3 separate regions of the Homo sapiens genome follow, and all the other regions are linked to region 1. The links come from fine-mapping of genetic effects on gene expression. A gene starts in region 1. Each other region holds a variant in brackets. All regions are shown on one strand. Distances are from middle to middle. Region 1 holds the start of ENGASE (endo-beta-N-acetylglucosaminidase). Region 2 overlaps C1QTNF1 (C1q and TNF related 1). Region 3 overlaps C1QTNF1 (C1q and TNF related 1).

Region 1 (7,201 bases):
CAAGTGATCTGCCCACCTCTACCTCCCAAAGTGCTAGGATTACAGGCATGAGCCACCGTGCCTGGCCCAGGCTAATTTTTCATATTTTTTTGGAGAGATGGGGTTTCTCCATGTTGCCCAGGCTGGTTTCCAAGCCTGCTCAAGCAATCAGTCCTCCTGCCTTGGCCTCCCAAAGTGATGAGATTACAGGCGTGAGCCACTGCGTCCAGCCTTGAAAGTTTTACATTGTGCTTTTTGTTTTTCCTCCAGCTGGTCTGAGACATGTATCTGAATGAAGGGACAGTGAGATTTATTGCAGAAGGAATGCAGTGACAACGAACAAGGTAAGAAGATTTTGAATGACAAAAAAAGATACCAGCCTTGCAAGCAGGCTGCTGTTTTGAGAGGTTTGTCTAAATTCCAGGATTTATCCCACTCATCTTAGTTAGATTTAGCTACTGTAAAAACACCAACAGAGTATTGGCTTAAATAAGACAGAAGGGTATTTCTGTCATTTAAGAGTCTGGGCTGGCCGGGAGCAGTGGCTCATGCCTGCAATTCCAGCATTTTGGGAGGCTGAGGTGGGCAGATCAGCCTGATGACAGAGCAAGACTCCATCTCAAAGAAAAAAAAAAAAAATTAGCCTGGCGTGGTGGTGGGCGCCTGTACTCCCAGCTATTCAGGAGACTGAGGTGGGAGTTCGAGACTAGCCTGGCCAACATGGTGAAACCCTGTCTCCACCGAAAATACAAAAAATTACCAGGCGTGATGGTGGGCGCCTGTAATCCCAGCTACTTGGGAGGCTGAGGCAGGAGAATCGCTTGAACCCGGGAGCTGGAGGTTGCAGTTAGTGTGCGGAGATCACGCCACTGAGCTCCAGCCTGGATGAGAGTGAGACTCTGTCTCAAAAAAAAAAAAAGTCCAGACATAAGCAGTCCAGGGCAACACTAGTCTTGCTGTTGGGGACCTAGGCCCCTCCCAGCCCTTCCACAAGTGGCTTTCATCTCATGGTCTCAGATGGTTGCTGCAGTTCCTGCCATCACATCCTTGCACCCAGCTGGCGACCAAGAGAAGCCAGGAAGGAAAGGTGGAGGGCAATGCCCCCTTTGTTTTGCAGGCACAACCAGAATTGCACTTCTCACTTTGTTTCTTGTTTCATAAACCACAGCTTACTTGTAAGTAAGTACACGTGGAAGGTCTAAGTTCTGCCTCTGGGGAATGCTGTCTTCATCTGGGCTACCATGTAGTCAGCAAAAACGTGGGGCTTCCGTTCCTAAAGGACAGGCTCGGAAGGAATATTGGGGACAATTAGTTCCTGCCACACTCTTCAGCATATCAGCAACCAAGCCCGGGGACCAGGTGGTGTCCACTCACCTGATTCTCATTTCCGGCTCCCCCGGAGGCCATGAAGGAGGAGGCAGAGGAAGGCAGAGCAAGCAGGTGTGACTCTAGGTCCCCACTCCGGGCGCTCTGGGCATGGCGAGGGGGGGTGCAGAGGCAAGTGCATGCACTGCGTCACGACCTGCAACAGGAAGCTGATGGGACAGCATGGTCAGGCAGGGAGACCCGAGGCTCAGCTGTCCCAAACCAACCAGTACTGGTGTGGGCAGAGCCCAGGACAGCCAAGAGCCTGCAGGGAGGTGTCAGAGGGGCCCCTGTAACAGGGCAGGGTGGCTCTGCCGAGGCTGTAGTTCAGATTCACAGGTAGGGATGCCAGATTTAGCAAATGCATAGACAGCATCCTAGTTCAGTTTGAATTTTAGATAAATATGCAATAACTTTTTAATATAAGCTTGTCCTATGTCCCAGGCATCATTTATTTGGAATTCAAATTTAACTGATTGCTCTGTATGTTATCTGAAAACACCAGAAGGTTAGGGTTTTAGAGGGCCCACTCAGGCCTCAAACGGATCCAGAGCCCCAGTATGAGCCAATGTGAGCTCAAGGCAGACAGGGCCCCTCCAGGCTTGGCCTGACATCCAGAGAGACCACGAGCCACAGGGGCTAACAAGAGGCCACAAGGCCTAAGTCCTTTCTGTCCTCAGGGGCGTGCAAGGCTGCCTTCACTTTCTTGCTCTTCTAGACCAGGTGCCTACTCTTTGGAAAGGAGAGAAGAAAAGGGAGGTTTGGGCATATTTTCTCCCAGAGACTGAGCATTACCCAAAGGCTGTTCAAAGTATCCCTTAGAACTGTGTTCTAACCTGGGTAGGATGAAAGTTTATCTATTTTTATTGCTAAGCTGCAGGTGAGGGCTTGGGAACACCTGGTTACATGCACCCCAGATCAAGACTGTCCACGTCCGGTGCACCCCTGAACACAGCAGGAGGGAACTTGGGGATCCACTGCCCTCGCTCACTGTAAGCTTCCCAGGACTGAAGCCCCAAAGAGGAGCCCTCTGCCTTCTCTGTCCTCCCCATGGGTCAGCGTGTCCTGCTTCTGAGTGGCCCGTCCTTCCTGCCTAACTGGCTGGCCTGCACCATGGCCCATATTCAACAACCTTAGTCATAGTTCCCACCATTGGCGTTTATGGAAGCTTGGAGCCTCATAAAGTTCAAAGTCTGCAACAATAATAAAGGCCCAGTCAACTTGGCTTGGGCGGCAGCTGCAGCCCAGCACTGGAAGCTCCTAGCTGTGGAGGGGCGTTGGGGCCTGGAGGGAGGAGAGCCTTGGTTTGCCCTGTGGGGCCCAGCCTTGAGTTCTGGCTTCTCAGGGCTCTGTTCTATCATGTTTCCTGTGAACTCCTTTTGTGCCTAAGACGCTGGGCAGTGCCACTCTTGCAGAGGTGCCACTCCAGGCCCTGCACGCTTAGGGGTAGAGCAACTACTACTGTTGGGCACAGGCGTGGGGCTGTAGAAAGAAATCCGTGTTTCACTGGAAAACTATGCATCCTACATAGGACACCAGCTTCCACATGGCCCGATACTAACCTACTAACCTTTCATCTTTTTTTTTTTTTTTTTGAGACGGAGTCTCCCTCTGTCGCCCAGGCTGGAGTGCAATGGCACCGTCTCGGCTCATTGCAGCCTCTGCCTCCCGGGTTCCAGCGATTCTCCAGTCTCAGCCTCTCAGGTAGCTGGGATTACAGGCATGCACCACCACGCCCGGCTAATTTTTGTATTTTAAGTAGAGACGGGGTTTCACCATGTTGGCCAGGGTAGTCTCGAACTCCTGACTTCAGGTGATCCGCCCGCCTCGGCCTCCCAAAGTGCTGGAATCGCAGACGTGAGTCACCGCGCCCGGTCTGAAAATTATCTTTTAATAGGGGTTAGCTGCATGAGTTAAAATCTCATTGCCACCATTTGCTGACTTTGTGCCCTCTGGGAGATTGCTTAATCTCTCTGGGATAAACCTCGGTTTGCTTGACAAAGGAAGCTGGTGAGGCTAAAGAGAGAACTCTAAGATTGGGGCGTTCCGAAGCCTTCTAGAGCCTTCTAGCACCCTGGACTCATAGCCAATGATGGGCAACAACAAGAACGACGACGAACCCTGGGCTCGGAACTCGCCCAGGCCCCGCCCCTCACAGCCCCGCCCCGTCCTCGGCCCCGCCCCCGGCCTGTCGCCTCAACAAAGTCCCCGCCGCGCGGCCGCTGGCCGGGAGTCAGCTCGGAGTCCCGTCCCAGCGCGGCGTCAGCGCTGCGCACTTCCCATTGGCCGAGCGCGGCGCGGGGGCGGGCCCGGGCCTGCGATTGCCTCTCGGCGTGCGCGGACAGTGTCATGGAGGCCGCGGCGGTGACGGTCACCCGGTCGGCTACACGGCGGCGGCGGCGGCAGCTGCAGGGGCTGGCGGCCCCGGAGGCGGGGACGCAGGAGGAGCAGGAGGATCAGGAGCCGCGGCCGCGGCGGCGGCGGCCGGGAAGGAGGTGGGGCTGCGGGGCCCGCGTGAACCCCGATCCGCGGGGCTGAGAGTCCGTGGCCCCGGGGCCCGAGGTTTCCCGGCACGGGCGCGCCGAGGGGCGGGGGGCCGGCGCCTGTGTCCGCTCCGTGCACAGTAAGGGACAGAGGGTGGCAGCGCCCCTCCGCCCCGGTCCGCCCCGCCGTCCTCGCGCCACTGCCGGGCAGCGGCCTCCGGCCCCCGTGCGTGACCCCTGCCTATCTCAGAAATACGGGTGCAAACCCGAGTGGCCGCGGGGCCCAGCGGGAATCCCGACGCCCCGGCCAGACCCCTGCTTCCCACGTCGCTGGTCTATGCGGAAGATCCCGGCGGCGGTGCTCATGCCTGGCTCAGTGGATGCCGGCTGGTGGAAGGGGTGGCCTTCTGTAGGGGTGACACTAGAACTGAGTCTTTGGGGAGGAGGAAGCCTTCAGTAGGTGGAGAATAGGGAGTAGGGTATCCAACTGGCGGGGAACAGAAAGGGCCAAAGCACAGAGACAGAAAGGGACGAACATGCCCCTCTGGGCTGGGCTTCCTTCCTTTGGGGGGCACTTGCCCACCCGGTAAACTCCCCCTCAGTAGGTTGCAGGGGGAGAAGTTAGGAGCACAGACATGGCTTCCGGAAACAGCAGCCGTAGCTTTGTTTCTAAACCCAAAGCAGTGAGACTGCTGAGCATTTCAGACCTCATGAAGATGGGATGAAGGCTGGCTGCTGGGAAAGATATTTTTGGACAGGAGGAATGTGGAGATGGCTCTTTCCCTCCTAGTGGAGGAATGACAGGTGACAAAGGTGACCTGGTGTGGGATTGTTCTGAGAAGGTCTGGGAGGGGGTGGCTGAAGTATAATAAGGACATCAACGAGGAAGGGGGCTTTGGAAAAGGAAGGTGGAGAGGAACAACTGCGGCATCTCTGCTTGAATCCGTCCCCGACCCCTGCAGTTCTCAGGGTCTCCCAATGTCATTCTGGAGGCCCTGGGTCAGTGTTTGGTGATGGCAGATGCTACAGAGGACTCTTTGCAACAGGCCTCTGAATGGCAGTGGAGTGATGGCAGATGACAACTCAGTGAACAAAGAAGTGGCCTTGGGCGTTGGTAGATTTAGGGAATCTCAACGTTGGTGCCATGGCCTCTAAATAGCCACTGCGGTGTCTTCTTACTGCTCCTAAAATAATAATGATTTTTTAGGCCAGGCATGGTGGCTTATGCCTGTAATCTCAGCACTTGGGAGGCTGAGGCGTGTGATCACCTGAGTTCGGGAGTTTGAGACCAGCCTGGCCAACATGGTGAAACTCAGTCTCTACTAAAAGTACAAAATTAGTCAGGCGTGGTGGCAGATGCCTGTAATCCCAGCTACTTGGGAGGCTGAGGCAGGAGACTCACTTGAACCCAGGAACTGGAGGTTGCAGTGAGCTGAGATTTCACCACCTTACTCCAGCCTGGGCGACAGAGCGAGACTCTGTCTCAATTAATCAATCAATTTTTAAAAGAAAGTGGTTTGAGATGTATTTAGGAGCTTTCCATGTTAATGTACCGAAGGAACGAAGGAACTCTTTCTCCCTGTAACATACATCCATGAACAGCGCGGAAGGCACTTAGGGAAGTGTGGCCTATAGAGGAAGCCTGGTCTCTGCTCTCTTAGGACCTGAAACTTTCTGGTGCTTTGGGTATTTGGATATTGCCCCTTGGCCATAGAAAATCCTGGGGACCCTGTGAAGTATTTATGTCTGGTCTTTGTGGTATTGGGGTGGCTGCTTTAGAGGGTAAGGTTTATTCTATTTATTTATTTTTTTGAGATGGAGTCTCGTTCTGTTGCCCAAGTTGGAGTGTAGTGGCACAGTCCCGGCTCACTGCAACCTTCGCCTCCCAGGTTCAAGTGATTCTCCCTGCCTCAGCCTCCCAAGGTGCTGGGATTACAGGCGTGTGCCACCATGCCCAGCTAATTTTTGTATTAGTAGAGATGGGGTTTTGCCATGTTGGCCAGGCTGGTCTTTAACTCCTGACCTCAGGTGATTCGCCTGCCTTGGCTTCCCAAAGTGTTGGGATTACAGGCGTGAACCACTGCGTCTGGCCTAGGGTAAGGTTTATTCTTAGGAGTAATCATTGGTACGTGTGTCCATGTGGAAGCCAAGCCCTGGTTGCTAATATAGGTAAAACCTTAGGATTATCACAGGGCACTTCCTTGCTTTATACAATGTTTCTATAGTTAATATTAAACAACATAAGGCAGAGAATATCTCTCTGTGTTTAGATGAAACTGGTCCATTTGCTTCTAAGTGTTCTTACCTATTTATGTTTTTATTTATAAATGTACAACTCCCTCTTTGCTTAGCATCAAAGATGAAGAAGAAGAGACAGTCTTTCGAGAGGTGGTCAGTTTTTCCCCGGACCCCCTGCCAGGTGAGGAGACAGAGGCTCTGAATACCGATCCACCTTCACACCTGGGGCTTTGGGGCAGGTCAGCCCCTGCCCCCTCTCATGTTCCTTCTCTGTTATTGTTAAAATGTTTCGATTAATCCTATAATAGTTTCCATTAATTGCTCAATGTTTCTGTCCTCGGACCAGTTAGATATTATGACAAGGACACCACCAAACCAATCAGCTTTTACTTGTCTTCGCTGGAGGAGCTCTTGGCGTGGAAGCCCCGCTTGGAGGATGGCTTTAATGTGGCCCTGGAGCCCCTGGCGTGTCGCCAGCCCCCTCTGAGCAGCCAGAGGCCCCGGACTTTGTTGTGTCATGACATGATGGGCGGGTACCTGGATGACAGGTGAGGACCTGGCCTTACATTGATGTTGCTTACATTGTTCTCCTTTGCTGGGGTGGGGGCTGGAGGGGCGGGAGAGAGTGCCATGTGTAGAAAGAGCACTGGGCGGGGAGTCAGGAGACGGGCATTGGAGGGATGGCACTAACTGCGAGAAGAAGGCAGGCCCCAGTGTTTCATCTGTAAAAAGGGAAGACTGGGCTGGGCTTGGTGGCTCACACCTATAATCCCAGCACTTTGGGAGGTCAAGGCAGGTGGGTCACCTGACCTCAGGAGTTTGAGACCAGCCTGGCCAACATGGCGAAACTCTGCCCCTACTAAAAATAGAAAAATTAGCCAGGCATGGTGGCAGGTGCCTGTAATCCCAGCTACTTAGGGGGCTAATGCAGGAGAATCGCTTGAACCAGGGAGGCAGAGATTGCAGTGAGCCAAGATTGCACTACTGCACTCCAGCCTGGGCAACAGAGTGAGACTCTGTCTCAAAAAAATAAAAAATAAAAAAAGGAAGGTTGGATTAGGCAGTGTCTTATGTCCCTTTCAGCTCTAGAATCATTTGACTCCTTGAACCTCCTCAACTTGAAGGCTGGTAGTAGA
Region 2 (7,201 bases), 34 kb before region 1:
AAAAATTATTATTATTATTATTACCACAGGGTCTCACTCTGTCACCCAGGCTAGAGTGCAGTGGTGCGATCATGGCTTACTGCAGCCTTGACTTCCTGGACTCAGGTGATCCTCCTACCTCAGTCTCTTGAGCAGCTGCTGGGACTACAGGCGAACACCACCATGCCTGGCTAATTTTTGTGTTTTTGGTAGAGATGGGGCTTCACCATGTTGTCCAGGATGGTCTTGAATTCCTAGGCTCAAGCAATCTACCCACCTTGGCCTCCCAAAGTGCTGGGATGACAGGTGTGAGCCACCACAAGCAAACAAGGGATACAATTTTTTTCTTTTTCTTTTTTTTTTTGAGACGGAGTCTCACTCTGTTGCTCAGGCTGGAGTGCAGTGGCGCGATCTTGGCTCACCACAACCTCTGCCTCCTGAGTTCAAGCAATTCTCCTGCCTCAGCCTCCCGAGTAGCTGGGACTACAGGTGCACCCCACCACGCCCAGCTAATTTTTGTATTTTTAGTAGAGATGGGGTTTCACCATGTTGGCCAGGCTGGTCTTGAACTCCTGACCTCAGGTGATCCACCTGCCTTGGCCTCCCAAAGTGTTGGGATTACAGGCGTGAGCCACCGCGCCCGGCCGGGATACAAATTATTCACAAGGATGTGTCCTCAGGCTTCCTGTCCTCCTCTACGTCCTGCGTGTAGCCTGGTTTCTCTTTTCTGGCCTCCCTCCTCCTGTAAAGGGGGATGTGTTCTTGTTGGGGAGAAGGTCAGGTGTAGGTGGATGATGTGGGGTTGAGGAAGGGACGCTGAAGAGCGGCTAGTCCTCAGGGACATGGAGGGAAGGAAAATGGTCGCCGAATTACCATGGAAATTGGCTCATATTTGCAGGATTTGGGAAAGGCAAGTAAAGAGCTTGAGTCATGCTGGAACTGTCTTCAGTTGCCTTGCCTGCGATGAGGCCTGGAGACTGGGCCACGTGGATCTGGATTCACACAGGTTTCACGTCACTGGCCAAGATGTGCTCAGGGCACTTCCCTGGAACTGCCTAACACATTCTTCCAGATAACCTTGCTGGGACACAGCCTCCCTACTGTAGGGGGATTTTTGCTGGAAATCACTAACAGTGATCTGGAGCCAAGTTTGGTTAGATGTTGGGCAATACTGTCTTTGCCCAAAAGTGACTAAAATGATCATCATGTTATGACGCTGGCTTTGCTGTGGGATTTGGTAAAATGCTTCTTAAGATCTTTTCAGGAAGGAAAGATTTCAACCTGGGTTTGCTCTGACTCCGAACAGCAGGCTTTTGAGGAGAGCCACCACCGCCAAAGTGGCCTTGTCCCTACCAGCCTGAGCCTGGGGCTCTCTGCTGGGGTTTCCCAGCCCCACCCCACCCCAGTGACAGCATCGTTCCTAACCCAGCTGCATCCTGGACCCCGTCTCTTCTGACCAAGGTGTGGAAAATCCCTTTGCTAGACTAGAAAGAGATAGACCAACATAAAAACAAATGCTGGTGCTTAGCTAGGGGCAATTTTGCCCCTGAGGAACAGGCATATTACCATGTTTGGAGACATTTTTTGTTGTCATAACTAGAGGTAGTGGTGCTAATGGCATCTGGTGGGGACAGTCCAGGGTTACTGCTAAGCATCCTACAGCACACAGGCTAGCCCCCCACCACAGGGGATTATCTAGGCCCAAACCTCAATGGTGCCAGGGTTGGCTGGCGCGGTGGCAAACGCCCGTAATCCCAGCACTTTGGGAGGCCGAGGCAGATGGATCACCTGAGGTCAGGAGTAGTTCAAGACCAGCCTGGCCAACATGGCGAAACCCTGTCTCTACTAAAAATACAAAAATTAGCCGGGTGTGGAGGCACACGCATATAATCTCAGTTACTAGGGAGACTGAGGCAGGAGAATAACTTGAACCTGGGAGGCGGAGGTTGCAGTGAGCCAAGATCGCGCCACTTCACTCCAGCCTGGGTGACAGAGCGAGACTCTGTCTCAAAATAAAATAAAACAAAAAAACCCAGCAATCCTTCAATGGTGCCAGGGTTGAGAAACCACAGAGTAGAATAATCCAAGGTAGCTTTTTAATGCGTTTTGTAGTTACTTTCCAACCTCTCTTAAATAAATATGTGTGTGTGTGTGTATATATATATATATGTAAATATGTATATATGTATATATATGTAAACATGTGTATGTGTATATATAAAATTTGGGATTCAGGAAAAAAATATTTAAAGAAAGGAAAATCTCTTTTCCTTTTAACTGGTACAAGTTTGCCACTTAAAAGGAAAAAACAGAATAATTATTAAGGCACCAAGGAGAAACAGAGGAAATACAGAAATGGAGAAATAAACAAATTTAGAGAATTCAGTCTGACAAATATTTGCTGAGCACCAGTGATTCAGGGTGCTGCAGGATGCTTGGCTAGGGGACGTCCCAGCCCTGGAGGAGGTCACCCACGGTCTGCTGAGTAGACTCTCATAGGCTAGACAAACTCTCTGCAGTAGGAGACAATAGGAAAAATAAAATTATGGCGCCCACCTATAATCCCAGTACTTTGGGAGGCCAAGGCAGGTGAATTGCTTGAGCTCAGGAGTTTGAGACGAGCCGGGGAAACACGGTGAAACCGTGTCTTTACGAAAAAACAACAAAAAAATTTAGCTGGGCGTGGTGGCGCATGCCTGTAGTCCCAGCTGCTTGAGAGGTTGAGGTGGGCAGATGGCCTGAGCCGGGAGGGTTGAGGCTACAGGGAGGCAGAGTGAGACCCTGTATCAAAAAAGAAAACTAAGACCGAGGATGGAGAATTTTTCCCAGTTGAGGGGCCTGGGAAGGCTTCAGGAAGACTATGAGACCTTGAGTTGGGTGTTGAAGACAAGGCGGGCAGGATTTTATTGTCATCTGTTGTCAGCCTGTCTGAGTCCAAATGCAGCCCCCCTGCTCAAAAATCAGTCTTGGCCCGGCGTGGAGGATCACGCCTGTAATCCCAGCACTTTGGGAGGCTGAGGTGGGCAGATCACTTGAGCCCGGGAGTTTGAGACCAGCCTGGGCAACATGGTGAAAATTTGTCTCTACAAAAAAAAAAAAAAAAAAAAAAAATTAGCTGGGTGTGGTAGTGCATACCTGCAGTCCCTTCTACTTGTGAGGCTGAGGTGGGAGGATGGCTCAAGTCCAGGAGGCAGAGGCTGCAGTGAGCCGAGATTGCACCACTGCACTCACTCACAGAGTGAGATCCTGTCAAAAAAAAAAATCAGAATTTTAGGCTAATTAGCTTCTCCAAGTCTCTGTTTTCTCATTTACATATCTGCTACAGTCATGAATGTATATTGTCTCCCTAGAGGATTGTGGGGCCATCCGTGATGGGATAAAAATTATTAATGAGGAAATGTTCTCAAACCTAACTAGACGGATAGCTGGAGAGAGAACTTAGATGTGTATTTTATAAATTACCATGTGCACATACACCCTTTTTTTGGCAAGTGGTGGGAGGTATCAGAGATTCTGGGTGGGGGCTGTGGCCTAAGCAGCTCCTTGGTCATTGGGACGGTCTCTGGGCCCTGACGCATGGGAGGGACAGCTGGCTGGTAGGACACTTGGAGGTGGGGGCTCCAGCTAAGCCACTGCAGAGATGGGGCGTGGGCCATGCAAGGTGGTGAAGACTGGGTGTAGGTATGTGTGACAGGGGAGGAGAGAGGTTCGGGGGGGCCAGCCTTGCTCTCCTCACTGTCACCTCGGAGGCTCTATCGGGAGAGCCCTGGACTCCAGATCTTCCCCTGCAATGTTGACTTGGCGTGAGGGCTCTGCGGGGAGCCCTTCAGACTTCACTCAAGAGCCCACTAAAGTCCTGGGCCGTGGCTCACGCCTGGAATCCCAGCACCTCGGGAGGCCGAGGTGGGTGGATCACTTGAGGTCAGAAGTTCCAGACCAGCCTGGCCAACGTGGTGAAACCCCGTCTCTACTAAAAATACAAAAATTAGCTGGGCGTGGTGGCGCATGCTTGTAATCCCAGCTGCTTGGGAGGCTGAGGCAGGAGAATCACTTGAACCTAGGAGGCGGAGTGAGCCGAGATCACACTGCTGCACTCCAGCCTGGGTGACAGAGCAAGACTCCATCTCAAAAAAAAAAAAAAAAAGCCCGCTACAGACATCCCCCGCAGAGGCTCCAAAGCCCCCGAGCGACGGTGTGTGTGGAAGAAATTCCCGGCTTCCCAAGATGAGTAAGACGTCGCGGTCATCTTGGTGTGTAATATGGGCAGAGAAAGAAATCTGTCAGGATTTTAACTTTCCTTAGACATAAGAGGAGTTAGAGGAGAAAGAGTCTGGCCCAGGGCCTTTGGAGATGAGCCCTTGCTTTCACTGTTTGCCTCTCAAGAAAGAGCTGGAGTCCACGCCGGCCTGGCAGCCAGGAGTGAGGGACGCTTCTCACCCACCTTCTCACTGGGCGGCTGTGTGTTGAATGAGGTGTTCCCACGGGGCCTGCGACATTTCGAGTTTTACATTTTGGTGAACAAAGAGGGGTTAGAGTTGACCACAGTCGCTGTGCCCCTCGGTGGGGAGGTTTTCGGCCCACCTGAAACGGCTGGGCCTGCGACTC[C/T]TGATGCCAGATTCCTGGGCGAGGGGAGCAAGCCGCTCACAGGGTGGCAGGTGGGCGTTCGCCTAATGTGGGCCCAAGTGCCGCCCCTCGCGGGCTCCCTGGACTCCCCACCTCCGTGAGCACCCCTTTCTAGAAGGACTGTCCCAATACTGGATGGAGGGGGTCCTGCCCCAAGCTTTTGCCAAAAGCTCTGGGAGTGAGACGTGGGGTTGGCTTCCTGGAAGGATGACTGCTCTGTGGGGCTGGGCTTGGCACATCCCTAAAGTAGATGCCAAGGACACCTGCTGATGCGCCGCCTGGTGGCCAGAAAGCAGCTTGCAGCCACCTTCCTACCCACCTACCCACCGGTGAAGGACCTGGTCATTGAGCCAGCTTTGCTTTGAGTTAAGGGATGATGATCATTCAAAGCTTGCTTGGGATTTTTCTTACTGTCCTAAGAGGGGTGGTATACAATTGTCTGTGGGGCCAGCGGCTGATGGACTCTCCTTCCCGAGAGGCTGGGTGGGCAGAGACAGCACCTTGCTCAGCAACCCCTCAACACCAGCCTGACTGGCTGAGGCTCTGGGGGCAGAGTGTGTGCGCACATGTGAAGGTGTGTGTACATGTGAGCGCATGTGTGCATGAGTGGATGTGCATGCATGTGAATGTGTTGAGAGTATGCGGGCGTGCACGTGAGTGTGCATGTGATGTGGGTATATGTGTGCATGTTAATGTGTGCACGTGTGTTGAAAGTGTGCATGTGTGGATTGCATGTATGCGAATGTGCATGTGTGTGGATTGCATGTATATGAATGTGTGTGCATGTGTGGGTTGCATGTGTGTGTGGGTTGCATGTGTGTATGTGTGTGCATGTGTGCATGGATTGCATGTATGTGAATGTGTGTGCATGTTGGATTGCATGTGAGTGCATGTGATGGTATATGTGTGTGAGTGCATGTAAAAGTGTGCATGTGTGTGGATTGCATGTGTGTGTGAATCTGTGTGCATGTGATATGGGTATATGTATGCATGTGTGTGCATGTGTGTTGAGAGTGTGCATGTGATTTGGGTATGTGTGCATGTGAGTTGTGCATGTGTGTTGAGTGCATGTGAGCATGTGGATTGCATGTGTGAGTGCATGTGTGTGGACTGTGTATGTGCATGTATGTGCATGTGAGTGTGAGTGTATGTGTGTTGACTGTGTGCATGTGAGCGTGTGGATTCCATGTGTGTTAAGAGTGTGCATATGGGTGCGTGGATTGCATGAGTGTGCATGTGATGTGGGTATATGTATGCATGTGTGTAGGTTTCATTGTTGAGACTGTGCATGTGTATTGTGTGTACATGTGTGTGGATTACATGTGTGTGGATTGCATGTGTGTTGGGTGCATGTGAATGTGTGGGTTGCATGTGAGTGTATGTGACTGTGTGTGCATGTGTGGATTGCATGTGTGTTGAGTGTGTGCATGTGTGGGGGTTGCATGTATGTGAATGTGTGTGCATGTGCGTGTGTGCACGTGAGTGCGTCGTGAGTGCGTGTATGCATGCATGGGTGTGTGAGAGTGATTGTCCTCCCAGAAGCTGTGTAACTGCAGCATTTCCCAGTGGCGTGAGGCTGGGGAAGCACCTCCGATTTCCAGGCTGTTTCTCTCCCCAATTTTCAGGCTGTTTCTCTGTGCAGCTCCTTCCTAACTCGGTGCCTTCCCTGTGTGTTTCTTTCCCACCAGGGCCCGGCAGGAAGATGGGCTCCCGTGGACAGGGACTCTTGCTGGCGTACTGCCTGCTCCTTGCCTTTGCCTCTGGCCTGGTCCTGAGTCGTGTGCCCCATGTCCAGGGGGAACAGCAGGAGTGGGAGGGGACTGAGGAGCTGCCGTCGCCTCCGGACCATGCCGAGAGGTGAGGGGCCACGAGGGTGTAATAGCAGGAGCTCTGGCTCTGGCCAGGCTGAGCCTGGGCCTTGGGGCCCCTGGGGGAGCTAGTTCACTGTGAGATGTGAAGGCAAGAAAGCTGAAGCTGAGCCGTGGCCCTGCTGGAGGCTGGTCCTGCAGGACAGACGAGCGATTCCTCCTTTCAGTGGCTTGGGCACCTCACCTGAAACTGCGGACAGTGATCCAGCCTCACCACGAGCCTAAAGGAGTGGGGTCTGCAAGTGGCTTTGCAGCTGCCTCCTTAAGAGCAGACCAAGCTCCCAACCTGCCCTCCAGTTTGTCTTTCCATTCTCACTTTGTCCGCTGAGAATATCTGCTGGGGACCTAGGCACCACTTGGAGGCAGGGAGAAGTGGAGCATGGCCTTAGGAGAGATGCTGGACCAAGAGCTGGTGTCCATGGCCCACGCGTCTTATCACACTGCAGGACAGGAGAGGACAGCGGAGACTGGGTGGGCCAAGTGTCGGCTTCCCTTGAAAGGTTGTGAAGGACTCTGGATGGCCTTCGTGTCTACGACCTGCAATGACAGAGAGACTCCAGCCGACCTGGGACATTTCCTAGGGAAGCCGAGTGCTTCATCCAACTGCCATGTACCCAGAGTGAGGTCCTGGAGACCCGGCGACAGCTCAAGCCTGGCTTGGAGTCTCTTCATTATTTTGAGCGTTGGGCTGACTTGATACTTGAGGCTTCAGACTAACTTCAGTGTACGAT
Region 3 (7,201 bases), 25 kb before region 1:
TCACCCAAAGACCCTCTCTTAGAAGTGTGGATTTCTCCCGAGCAGCCCCCATCTTGCGTGGCACTCAATTGATCGCTGCGTGTGTTTCCAGGACTGTCATTGCCTTTAACAGAGGGCAGGGGGCTCGTTCGGTAGTGAGGATCCCAGAGTGGGCCGTGAGCCCACCAGCGTGAACACAGAGCCTTGTGGGTCCAGGTGAGAGAGTGAGAAGGCAGGTCAGGCATGCCAGAACCACTGGCAGCAGGAGAGAGCAGCGTTTCCAGGCCTGAGAGTGGCTGACTTTCACTGTGATTCTTTATTCCCTCAGGGCTGAAGAACAACATGAAAAATACAGGCCCAGTCAGGACCAGGGGCTCCCTGCTTCCCGGTGCTTGCGCTGCTGTGACCCCGGTACCTCCATGTACCCGGCGACCGCCGTGCCCCAGATCAACATCACTATCTTGAAAGGTCAGATGGCTGCAAAGACAAGCACGGGGTGGCCGGGCTGCTCTGTGCTGATCCGGAGGAAGGGATGGAGTCGTTAGGGTGGGGCTAGGCGAGAGCAGAATGGCTCCCTCGGGACAGGGAGCAGAGGCAGGCAGGCTGTCATCTAGAGGGGAAGGCACAGGAAATTCTGATTTTGAGGCTCTGGCCCCTCTCCAAGAGGAGGGGTTGGAAAGGGGCCCACAGGACCAAGAGCAGGAGAGGGAGCCCAGAGGCTACTCGGGGTCTCGTCCCTCCAGTTGTATGTGGACGCCAGGCTTCTAGGCCCTTTGCTTTGGGGCTTGGTCCCCCAGCCTGCTTTCTGAAATGCCACCTGCTCGCTCCGGTCCTGCACACGGCAGATAACCCTGCACAGCCCCGTGAAATCGAACTGGAAACACTTGCAGCCTAGATCCCCAGCTGGCCCCGACATCTGGAGTTCATTTGCTCAGAGCGAGCCGTCGGTCTGGCCGCAGAGCCCATTGCTTTTGGACGAACCCGTATGTTCCATTTTCTTTTTTTTCTTTTCTTTTTTTTTTTTTTTACCAGGGCTTTCCAGAAGGAAAAAAAAATTATTGCTTCTGGGCGAAAATAGAACCATCCTTGAGGTTGAGTCTGTTTGCTTGGCCATTTTGGGAATCACAATACCTCTGTGCCAGGCTGGGACGCCGCCCGTGGCAGGGGGCTGGGGGCAGGAGTGAAGCTTCTGCCAGGTCAGGGCTGTGAGGACGAATCAGGACAGCGCCAGGGACCGGAGAGTGAGCAGCCAAGGCTCAGGACACTACCGGATTGCTCCATTAACAGCACGCGTTTTCCCATCCCTTTTAGGGGAGAAGGGTGACCGCGGAGATCGAGGCCTCCAAGGGAAATATGGCAAAACAGGCTCAGCAGGGGCCAGGGGCCACACTGGACCCAAAGGGCAGAAGGGCTCCATGGGGGCCCCTGGGGAGCGGTGCAAGAGCCACTACGCCGCCTTTTCGGTGGGCCGGAAGAAGCCCATGCACAGCAACCACTACTACCAGACGGTGATCTTCGACACGGAGTTCGTGAACCTCTACGACCACTTCAACATGTTCACCGGCAAGTTCTACTGCTACGTGCCCGGCCTCTACTTCTTCAGCCTCAACGTGCACACCTGGAACCAGAAGGAGACCTACCTGCACATCATGAAGAACGAGGAGGAGGTGGTGATCTTGTTCGCGCAGGTGGGCGACCGCAGCATCATGCAAAGCCAGAGCCTGATGCTGGAGCTGCGAGAGCAGGACCAGGTGTGGGTACGCCTCTACAAGGGCGAACGTGAGAACGCCATCTTCAGCGAGGAGCTGGACACCTACATCACCTTCAGTGGCTACCTGGTCAAGCACGCCACCGAGCCCTAGCTGGCCGGCCACCTCCTTTCCTCTCGCCACCTTCCACCCCTGCGCTGTGCTGACCCCACCGCCTCTTCCCCGATCCCTGGACTCCGACTCCCTGGCTTTGGCATTCAGTGAGACGCCCTGCACACACAGAAAGCCAAAGCGATCGGTGCTCCCAGATCCCGCAGCCTCTGGAGAGAGCTGACGGCAGATGAAATCACCAGGGCGGGGCACCCGCGAGAACCCTCTGGGACCTTCCGCGGCCCTCTCTGCACACATCCTCAAGTGACCCCGCACGGCGAGACGCGGGTGGCGGCAGGGCGTCCCAGGGTGCGGCACCGCGGCTCCAGTCCTTGGAAATAATTAGGCAAATTCTAAAGGTCTCAAAAGGAGCAAAGTAAACCGTGGAGGACAAAGAAAAGGGTTGTTATTTTTGTCTTTCCAGCCAGCCTGCTGGCTCCCAAGAGAGAGGCCTTTTCAGTTGAGACTCTGCTTAAGAGAAGATCCAAAGTTAAAGCTCTGGGGTCAGGGGAGGGGCCGGGGGCAGGAAACTACCTCTGGCTTAATTCTTTTAAGCCACGTAGGAACTTTCTTGAGGGATAGGTGGACCCTGACATCCCTGTGGCCTTGCCCAAGGGCTCTGCTGGTCTTTCTGAGTCACAGCTGCGAGGTGATGGGGGCTGGGGCCCCAGGCGTCAGCCTCCCAGAGGGACAGCTGAGCCCCCTGCCTTGGCTCCAGGTTGGTAGAAGCAGCCGAAGGGCTCCTGACAGTGGCCAGGGACCCCTGGGTCCCCCAGGCCTGCAGATGTTTCTATGAGGGGCAGAGCTCCTGGTACATCCATGTGTGGCTCTGCTCCACCCCTGTGCCACCCCAGAGCCCTGGGGGGTGGTCTCCATGCCTGCCACCCTGGCATCGGCTTTCTGTGCCGCCTCCCACACAAATCAGCCCCAGAAGGCCCCGGGGCCTTGGCTTCTGTTTTTTATAAAACACCTCAAGCAGCACTGCAGTCTCCCATCTCCTCGTGGGCTAAGCATCACCGCTTCCACGTGTGTTGTGTTGGTTGGCAGCAAGGCTGATCCAGACCCCTTCTGCCCCCACTGCCCTCATCCAGGCCTCTGACCAGTAGCCTGAGAGGGGCTTTTTCTAGGCTTCAGAGCAGGGGAGAGCTGGAAGGGGCTAGAAAGCTCCCGCTTGTCTGTTTCTCAGGCTCCTGTGAGCCTCAGTCCTGAGACCAGAGTCAAGAGGAAGTACAC[G/A]TCCCAATCACCCGTGTCAGGATTCACTCTCAGGAGCTGGGTGGCAGGAGAGGCAATAGCCCCTGTGGCAATTGCAGGACCAGCTGGAGCAGGGTTGCGGTGTCTCCACGGTGCTCTCGCCCTGCCCATGGCCACCCCAGACTCTGATCTCCAGGAACCCCATAGCCCCTCTCCACCTCACCCCATGTTGATGCCCAGGGTCACTCTTGCTACCCGCTGGGCCCCCAAACCCCCGCTGCCTCTCTTCCTTCCCCCCATCCCCCACCTGGTTTTGACTAATCCTGCTTCCCTCTCTGGGCCTGGCTGCCGGGATCTGGGGTCCCTAAGTCCCTCTCTTTAAAGAACTTCTGCGGGTCAGACTCTGAAGCCGAGTTGCTGTGGGCGTGCCCGGAAGCAGAGCGCCACACTCGCTGCTTAAGCTCCCCCAGCTCTTTCCAGAAAACATTAAACTCAGAATTGTGTTTTCAGCATCCTGCCTCGTCAGTTTGCTCATTAAACTGAATCCTTTTCGTCTTCTCCTCTCCACCCAAGGCCCACTCCTGCCTGGGAGGCCCTCAGCTTCATACCTGGGGACATTGGTACCCAGCAGGTGCATGCTGGACCCTGAGTTGCCTCGCTCCTCCAGGGGGTGCAGCCTCCCATGGGTGGGGCAGCGACAGCGTGTCTCAGCTGCAGCTGAACGTGTGCCTGAGTCGGGCGCCTGGGGCCTGGGTGGGTCTGGGGACTTGTGAGAGGTGGGTGGGAGGCAGGGGCTTGATCTCCTGAGCAGGACCGCACTGTCCCCCGGGAGGGAGAGAAACTGTGGAGGTAGCAGCTTGGCCATGGCTCTGCAGCCTGGACACTATTCCTTTCCTAGGGCTGCCGTGGAAACTGGGGTTGGGGCGTGGGTGGCATAAGCCTCTAGCGGAGGGTCCTTCCTGCCCCTTCCAGCTATTGGTAGCCCCAGGCACTCCTTGGCTTGCGGCTGCATCTCCTCAGGTTCTGCTTCCGTCTTCATGTGGCCTTCCCCTCCGTGTGTCTCAAATCTTCCTCTCCCTTCCCTTACTATAACACCTGTTGCTGGATTTAGAGAATCAGGTAAATATTTAGGGCCCACTGTAAATCCAGGATGGTCTTCTCTCTAGATCCTAACTTAATTACGTCTGCAAAGACTATTTCCAAATAAGGTGACATTCACAGATAGCAGAGGTGAGGACTTGGACATATCTTTTTTTGGGGGATACAGTTCAACCTCTACCATGGCTTGCAGCTTGAATACACCCATCAGCAGCCCCCTCTGTTCTCCAGTGGTGCAGAGCAGATGTTCCTTCTTCTCTCCATCGCTTGCCAACTGGGTTAACAGCCAGGCACTGCATCCAGCTGCCAGCGGGGAGCACAGAAGCTACCTTGCTCTCTCTGGTGCCAGCAGGCTGCAAACAGCTGATCTCCTTCCTCTGCCCGCTCCTGGGGTGAGGCCATGTGTTCATGCTTGGCCTTGTGCTAGAGCCAGACTGGATCAAGGGGACCCTGCAATCCTGCTCTGTACGGGAGAAGGAGCAGGCTCCTACCTCCGCGGAGTTCAGGCCACTCAGCAGAGGATGTGCTTCCCAGGCAGTGGGGAGCAAGGGCTAAGTGCCCTTCCCAGAGGTGCCTGGAGGGAACCAGCCAGCTTCATACAGGTGCCCAATGACAACCCTCTCTGGAGACGGAGTCACGTGGACCATATAATACCTGTTTCTCTGCTGGCCAAATTCCCATGGGAAAAGAGGCAGGGTCTGCTCCAGTCCGCTCCATGCTCCTTTTAACATCCCTCTATCTTTGGGGTTTCCCCACCCCCAATATTTTCAGGCTGGCATTTATGCTCCACCCATTCTTCCTCCAAATATTTCCCTTGCTCCTGCTTTGTGGCAGATCGTGTGCTAGGCACTGGAGGCATAAGGACAGATAAGATATGGTCCTTGCCTTCCTGAGGACTTTCCCAGGGTTTCGACTGCCGTCTGACAGAGGTCAGCCTTCTCAGAAGAGCTGCACGCTTGGTACCAAGTGATCTGCTCCACCTGATGCCTCCCCAAGCAGTTGATCTTGACGGGATCCTCTCCCGGTTTCCTGTCCCAAGCTGGTGAGAAATTGGCTAGCCATCTCACTAAAGGGTCTAGAAAACTCAGTTGCAATACAAATATCAGTGTTTTAGCAAAAGGACTTAGTAATGGCTGATGACTCAGCCCAACGAAATAACTGCCTATGTTAGGACTTTCAGGAGCTTTTGTAGCCAGGGATGGGGATGAGGAGGTCATGGCCCACACTAGTCCTCAATGATAATTTTCTGTAAGGTCCACTATGGGAACGCAGTGGCGTGATGGCAAGCTGATTTTATTGGGCCATAATGACTAGCATAAGATGAGACATTGTTGCCCAGATTATTAAAAAAAAATAGAATGTAACAGAAAATAATAAATAATGCAAGATATCGATGTCCCAACATGCAAAAGAATGGAGTTGGGCCCCTACCTCACACCATATACGAAAATTAGGCCTTGGATCAAAGGCCTAAATATTAGAGCCAAAACTACAAAATTCTTAGAAGAAAGCCCAGGCATACATCTTCATGACCTTGGATTAGGTGATGATTTCTTAGGTATGATATCAAAGGTACAAGCAACAAAAGAAAAAAATAGATCAACTGCACATCATCAAACTTGTAAATTTCTGTGTTTCAAAGGACACCATCAAGTAAGTGAAAAGACAACTCACAGAATGGGAGAAAATATTTGCCATCATATATCTGATAAGGGACTTATATCTAGAATATATAAAGAACTCTTGCAACTCAATAATAAAAAGACAAATAATCTAATTAAAAATGGGCAAAGCAGCCCACACTTCTCCAGAGGAGATATACAAGTAACCAATACACACATGAACAGGTGTAATCATCAGAGAAATGCAAGTCAAAACCACAGTGAGACACAACTCTACAACCACCAATACACACATGAACAGGTGTATCATCAGGGAAACGCAAATCAAAACCACAGTGAGACAACTCTACAACCAATGGGAAGGCTGTTGTCAAGAAGACAGATGATAACATGTGTTGCTGAGGATATGGAGCTGCTGGAACTGCTGTCAGGAATACAAAATGGTGAGTCCCCTTTAGAAGACAGCCTGGCAGTTCCTCAAAATGTTAAGCATAGAGCTACAGCTGACCCAGCCATAACACTTCTAGGTATATACCCAAAAGACATGAAAATATATGTCTATGAAAAGCTTATAGATAGATGTTCATAGCAGCATTATTAGTAATAACAAAGAAGCAGGTACAACCCAAGTGCCCACTCAGCTGATGAACAGGTAAACAAATGCAGTGTGTCTATACAAAGCAGGCAGATCACAAGGTCAGGAGTTCGAGACCAGCCTGGCCAACATGGTGAAGCCCTGTTTCTACTAAAAAAATACAAAAATTAGCCAGGCGTAGTGGTGTGTGCCTGTAATCCCAGCTACTTGGGAGTCTGAGGCAGGAGAATTGCTTGAACCTGGGAGGCAGAGGTTGCAGTGAGCGGAGATCGTGCCACTGCATTCCAGAGCCTGGGTGACAGAGCAAGACTCACTCCATCTCAAAAAAAAAAAAAAAAAAAAAAAAAGGAATGAAGTGCTATTACCTACTACAACATTGGTAAACCTCAGAAACATTATCAAAAGGGAAAGAAGCCAGACAGAAAAGGCCATACGTTGCATGATTCCATTTATATGAAATGACCAGAATAAGCAAATCTAAACTAAAAATTACTGAATTCTACACTTTAAATGGATGATTCTATGGTATGTAAATAATATCTCAATAAACAGCAGTTATCAAAACAAGTAACACAAAACCAAAAAATTAGGCTGCCGCAGCCTTCTCTATTCAAGGCTGGAAAGTCCTGGAGCTCCAGAGTCATGACCTTCAGAGTTGGTCCCATTGTTCTGGGCTTGGCTTACGATGGCACAGGGGCCAAGGGCCAGTGAGATGGGATGGGAGTGTCAGGGTTAGTTTTTCCAAGGACATTGTTGAACAAGCATTTTTGAATCAACTGGTGGGTGAGATCACAGAGTCAGCAGGAGGCTGATGCAGGTGCCAGGGGAAGCATTCCACAAGGAATGACTAATTGAGG

Evidence for each region. PIP is the estimated chance that this variant, and not a neighbour inherited with it, causes the effect.
Region 2: its variant is the best candidate, but not a certain one, in a credible set for the expression of ENGASE in monocytes after LPS (Quach 2016, PIP 0.74).
Region 3: its variant is the best candidate, but not a certain one, in a credible set for the expression of ENGASE in fetal neocortex (Walker 2019, PIP 0.80).

Annotation. Positions count from the first base shown.
Region 1 is chr17:79,071,252-79,078,452 of GRCh38, forward strand. ENGASE (endo-beta-N-acetylglucosaminidase) reads left to right here and starts at 3,573. Exons shown (of 14, transcript NM_001042573.3): 1 at 3,573-3,839; 2 at 6,179-6,246; 3 at 6,412-6,613. The coding sequence starts at 3,694. RefSeq lists a silencer at 3,435-3,974.
Region 2 is chr17:79,037,665-79,044,865 of GRCh38, forward strand. It overlaps C1QTNF1 (C1q and TNF related 1), which reads left to right. Exons shown (of 4, transcript NM_030968.5): 2 at 6,291-6,459. The coding sequence starts at 6,305. Among named protein-coding and RNA genes, the nearest start is that of C1QTNF1-AS1, 14 kb to the left of the region's middle. RefSeq lists an enhancer at 6,301-6,801. The variant C/T (reference allele first, on the strand shown) is at 4,585.
Region 3 is chr17:79,046,248-79,053,448 of GRCh38, forward strand. It overlaps C1QTNF1 (C1q and TNF related 1), which reads left to right. Exons shown (of 4, transcript NM_030968.5): 3 at 308-447; 4 at 1,291-3,541. The coding sequence ends at 1,841. Among named protein-coding and RNA genes, the nearest start is that of C1QTNF1-AS1, 22 kb to the left of the region's middle. RefSeq lists an enhancer at 407-1,606. The variant G/A (reference allele first, on the strand shown) is at 3,072.